2 separate regions of the Homo sapiens genome follow, and region 2 is linked to region 1. Evidence: fine-mapped expression QTL. A gene starts in region 1. The other region holds a variant in brackets. All regions are shown on one strand. Distances are between the middles of the regions. Region 1 holds the start of ZNNT1 (ZNF706 neighboring transcript 1). Region 2 has its middle 6.1 kb from the start of ZNF706.

Region 1 (2,927 bases):
AAGCTAGTGATATTTGATTAAATAACCATATCTAAAAACTACTAGATAAGAGATTACTGTCAAGCTAGAGAATGAGGTGCCAAGTTGGCAAGCTACTGGTTTTTCTCCTGTTCAACATTTGTATCAACAACTTCAATGAACGATAGTCAATATACCCATTGTGCCTGTGGATAACACAACGGGAAGCCAAAAAAAAAAAAAAAAAACTAGATAAGAGAGTCAAAAATCAAAAAGATCTGTACAGACAAGAATAATGGATGAAAATTAAACATTAACAGAAAAGTTCTGAATATCAGTTCAAAAGTAGGCAAAGGGAAATAATGGAAGAGAAGTAGTTTAATTAAAGACTATGAAAAAGGCTTAAGGATTTTATTTGATTGGAAGTCTGGTATCAGTTAAGAATACAATGTGTTGGCCAAAAAATCCTAGTGCAATTCCAGGCTGAATACATTCATTCAGCAATGATTTATTGGGTGTCTACTAAGTGCTTGGTGTTGTGTGGAAAACAAGGATGAAGGTGTGGCCCCTGCTTTCGAGCAGCTTACAAAAGTGACATGTGTTCCTCCTAGACCACAAAGTAGAAAGCATTTGGTGCTGCAAAGTAAAAGAGACAGGAAAGGTCGGCACATGTATGATGAAGGGGAAGAGTGGGCTTGTGGAGAAGCACAAGGAATGATAAGGTAGGGAAGATATTTCAGTGCCAGTCTGTAGTAGGTCCTTAGTGCCAGGCCAAGAAGATTGGAAGTTATGTGAGGGGATGAGGAAATGAAAGATTTTGCAGCCAAAAAAAAAAAAAAAAAAGATGGTCAGTGTTTTAGGAAGATTTCTTTGGAAGCAGTCTGTTGGACAAATTGGAGTGGGGAGACACACACACAGAGGCTTATACTTGGCATCATTTCAAAGATTGATGTTCTTGTTCCTCATCTTCATTCTATAAGTGGAGAAAGTGAAGCTGAAGGTTTAAATGATGTCCCTAAAGACACAGAGCTGACAGGGGTATGCAGAAGCAGAATCCAGGATGGTGCTTCTGGGTCCAGTGGGTGATAAACCAATGGCAATTAGACCTTGCACAGTTGTTGGAGTTTAGAAAAACATTTCTGGAGGGACTTAAGGAAACCAGTTAAGAGATCATTTCCACAGGCAAAGTAAAAAATATTGAGCACTGAAAGTGGAAAGAGGGTCAGCTGGGGGAGAAACTGCTCTGATGCTGTGGGTTGAGAGGGAAGGAAGCAAGGCAAAGAGGACTTGGAGACAGAAGGACAGCAGTGGGATGAATGACCATGGGGAATACAAGGATGAAAAAGCAACTTGGAGGAGTACCATTTTGAGTGGGGCCAATTTTTTTTTTCTTTTTGAGACGGAGTTTCGCTCTTGTTGTCCAGGCTAGAGTGCAATGAAGCGATCTTGGCTCACCACAACCTCAGCTTCCCGGGCTCAAGCGATTCTCCTGCCTTAGCCTCCCAAGTAGGTGGGATTACAAGCACGTGCCACCATGTCTGCCTAATTTTGTATTTTTAGTAGAGATGGGGTTTCTTCATGTTGGTCAGGCTGGTCTTGAACTCCCCACCTCAGGTGATCCACCCGCCTCAGCCTCCCAAAGTGCCGGGATTACAGGCGTGAGCCACCGTGCCCAGCAACAGAGATTCTAGTGGGGCCCATTTTAACAGAAGGGGCACTGGAAATGAATGTGTCCAGAAGAAGGTAACTGGAAAGCAAATTGCAGGAATGAGAGAAGGAACTGCTTAGTCTGGGAAAGCCTAAGTTATTTGCAGAATTGAATTGAAAAGATTTCCGGGGAGAACAGATAGCTAGCATCCTACATCTGTAGAGCTTTTACAGAACAATGTTAAGTTGCCTCCTAACGAGCTTTAGCATGGCACCAGTGGAAGGCACTGTTAGATGGCAGCAATGCAGAGTTGTGGAAAGGCCAAGGGGCAGAAGATTTGAGGCAGATCAGCTCCTATCTGTGAAGCAGTATAGTGGGAGGAGCACAGACTTTGGAGTCACACAGACCTGGGTTCTAGTCCCAGCCTACCTCTACCAGCTATGTGACCTTGGGGAAGTTGCTGAACCTCTTTGTGCCTCAGTTTCCATATGTACAAAATAAAGAGGCTAGATTGGAAGACTTCCAAGATCTTGTCTAGCTATAAAATTCCTTGGTTCTAAAAAGGTGGCTTATGTGCATAAAATAAATAGATGGAAATACAGTATTATCTTCTTTGGATTTTGCTCTCAAATCTGTACTAATATTGGTTATCAAGTATGCACAGCCAGCCTGCTTCTGTTGCACTGCATGATGGCATGTAATGATGGAACAGAGCTGACATGTTCACAAAAGCACTTTTCTCTGTGGGTAGGAGTGGAAAATAGTTCCATTTAGCTGATATCACTAATTTTTAAAGAAAACCATATGAGCTAAAGAGAACTGAAGATGAATGTGGGAGCTATGAGTCAACCACTGAATCTCAGCTGCATTAATTTTACATTATAAATGACACAGTTTTAAAGTTTCTTAGATTTTATAATAGTTGAAATTTTTCTTTAAAAGAGTACACCCTATACATGCCGATACACGTTAAAAAGATTGAACATTTCTTCCCATTCTAAAGCATCTTGAAAACAATGACTGTGCTGTTAGCGATTTTTAATATAAAATACATTTCCTAGCAGTGTTATAAACCGCTAACAGCACTTTTTGTGAAAATTGGCTACTTCATACAAAAAAAACCTCACAGTTTTTGTTATCTTTGTAGGATTTTCTTCCCCCTTTTTGAATTGTTTTATAATGGATAATGTTGCTTAAAAACATCCAGCATTTCCATGAGAAATGAAATATTCAGAAGACTTCTGGATAAGTGATATTTATACATAGTTCCTTTAATCTTAAATACCTAACTCTTAAATAGCATATAAGAGAAATTGTTTTC
Region 2 (2,927 bases), 42 kb after region 1:
CTGGGATGGCTGTAATCGAAAAGACAGATGATAACAAGTATTGGAGAGGAGGTGAAGAATTTAGAAACAGTCTGGTGGTTTTCCAAAAGATAAACATAGAGTCATCATATAACCTAACAATTCCAATCCTAGATATATATCCAAGAGCAATGAGAACATACGTTCACACAAAAGTTTGTACATTTTAAGCAGCATTATTCATAATAGCCAAAAAGTAGAAACAACCCAAATATTCAGCAGGTGATGAACTGAGAAACTGTGGTATGGCCATAAAATGAAATATTATTTGGCCATAAAAAGGAATGAGGTTCTGATACATGCCTCAACTTGGATGAACCTTGAAAACGTTATGCTAAGTGAAAGGAGGTCCTTCCTTGAGCCCCCATCTGAATGAGGAGTCCTTGTACTTTTCATCCTTTGAATTTATCATGCAATATTATGTATTGTTTCATGAAATGTTTTACATATATATGTATATATAATGTATATGTGTATATATAATGTATATGTGTATATATATAAATTTGTAGAATTTCTCCTTTCCATTTGATTCCTAAAACAATAACCTGTAACACCTGTGCTGTACTTACTATCTACCAGGCACTGTTATATATGCTTTATATATTTTGATTCATTTAACCTTCTCAACAACTCTTATGTAGCTGAGGTACAAAATGGCTAAGTTATCTAAGATTACACAGCTAGTAAGTAGAAAAGCTAAGATTTGGCTCCTGGCAGTCTTTTTCCTGAGGCTGAGCCGTGGTCCTGTGTATACTATAAGGGTGGTTCTGTATCTGTTCTTTTTATCCCTGTGTAGCCTGTATTTAGCATAGCATCTGGCATGATGTAGGTACCCAATAAATATTTGTTGAATGAATGTAAGTCTGAATGATTCCTTTAAACTCGGTTAGGAGACCTCCTAGGTATCACAGATTATGATGTACTTCCCTAAAAATAGCACTTATCTCACTGTGTTGTACTTGCCTGTTTATCCATAGAAGATGAGCTCCCTCAGGTCCTGAGTTATGTCTTGTTAACCAGCATCTAGTACAGTGCCTGGCACCTAGCAGGTAGTTAATAAGTATCTGTAAATGGATGAAATAAGAGAGTGGATTGTGAATGAAATTACAAGTATCAGTGACAATCCGTGAGGCCAGTATTTGAAAATGATTACCCCTGCCATCCAGTTAAAGATAGAGGCTTGAACACATGCATTTACCTCTACCCTTTGTTGGAATCCCACTAAAAATAATGGTAAAGGAGTTTATAAGAAAGCATAAACTCCTTTACCATTGAAGAAAAGAAAACAGAAGAGAAGAATGTAGCAGAATTTTGGAAGCTGCAAAGTAAGTAAACAAGTGGTAACTGATTTAGGAGAGAAGAGGGTTTCTGGACTGAAGGGGCAGCAAGCATGAGTGGGGGTAGCAAAACAGAGGACTAAATGAAAATTTAAGTTGAATGTTGAGAGACACTTCACCATCTCAGCTCTGAGAATGGAAACAGACAATCTTATACCTCCAGCCAGAAAACTGAAAGAGTTTTCTTGGGGATTAGAACCCAACTCAATGGAAATACCT[A/G]AAGATACTGATACTTGGGATTGCCCAATAAGACAGCACAGCCAGGTAATCCTGCAACAAATCCCATGTTTGAAAAGTGGCACCTGCATGTATCAGTCTTCCAATCAGATGTCTAGTGCCCTGTTCTTAAATGTGAGCACACAGCCAAGGATAACCAAACATTTGAGGAAAACCTCTTATATGAAACACAGAGTCCCCAAAGTTGCAGAGAAAAAAGCAAGAGAAAACAAACTATGCTGGGAGAAGAAAACTTCAAGAGAACCATCAGAGGGACACGAACTCACAGAGATGATAACATGGTGTGTCCTGGAAGCTATTTTAAAATAAAGGAACAATGAGAGAAAACAACTACAAAAAAGATACTGGAAAAGTTTATCTCATCTGTCTGTCTGTCTGTCTGTCTATCTAACTACCTACCTACCTATCTGCTAGTAGAAATGGAAACTCAAGAAAGGGTGGAAGGTAAAATTAAGAAAATATCCTAGAAAGTTGGCTCTTGAACAACATGGGTTTGAACTGTGTGGGTGCACTTATACGTGGATTTCCTACTGCGTCTGCCATCCCTCAGACAACAAGATCAATCCCTGCTCTTTTTCCTCCATCTCAGCCTACTTAATATGAAGATCATGAGGATAAAAACCTTTATGATGATCCACTTTCACTTAATGAATATTAAATATATTTTCTCTTGCTTACGATTTTATTAATAATATTCTTTTCTCTAGTTTGCTGTATTGTAAAAAATAGTTGTATAACACATATACAAGATATATGTTCATTGAGTATGTACATTATTAGTAAGGCTTCAGGTCAATGGTAGGCTATTAGTAGTTAAGTTTCTGGGGAGTCAAAAGTTACATGTAGGTTTTTGACTTTGTGGGGAGATTGGTGCCCCTAATCCTTGTATCATTGATGGTTCAACTGTAGAATGAAAAGACAAAGAGTTAGAAAATATGAAAGAAAAGACAATAGAATTAAAGGGTAATTTCAGGAGACCCAATATTCAACTAATAGAAATTCCAGAACAGAAAAACTAAGAGGAAATTATTTTTTAAAGAGCTATTAATAACCGAATTGCCAGCTGAAGGCCCCCAAAGAGTGCTAGTACACTGGATGGGTAAAACCCACACCAAGGCACATCTAAATGAAATTTCAGAACACTAGCAATAAAGGGGATAGCCTATAAGCTTCCAGAGAGGAAAAAATAAATTAGTTTCATTGAAGAATTAAAAACCAGAATGTTACTGGTTTTCTCAACAGCAATATTGAAAATTAGAAAACAGTAGAGAAAGATATACAAGGTATCACACTATTTACCTCCTGGTCACCCTTCCTCACTGAACTTATTGA

Evidence for each region. PIP is the estimated chance that this variant, and not a neighbour inherited with it, causes the effect.
Region 2: its variant is the best candidate, but not a certain one, in a credible set for the expression of ZNNT1 in whole blood (TOPMed, PIP 0.72).

Annotation. Positions count from the first base shown.
Region 1 is chr8:101,168,711-101,171,637 of GRCh38, forward strand. ZNNT1 (ZNF706 neighboring transcript 1) reads right to left here and starts at 1,529. Exons shown (of 1, transcript NR_164368.1): 1 at 1-1,529.
Region 2 is chr8:101,210,355-101,213,281 of GRCh38, forward strand. No RefSeq gene overlaps it. Among named protein-coding and RNA genes, the nearest start is that of ZNF706, 6.1 kb to the left of the region's middle. The variant A/G (reference allele first, on the strand shown) is at 1,578.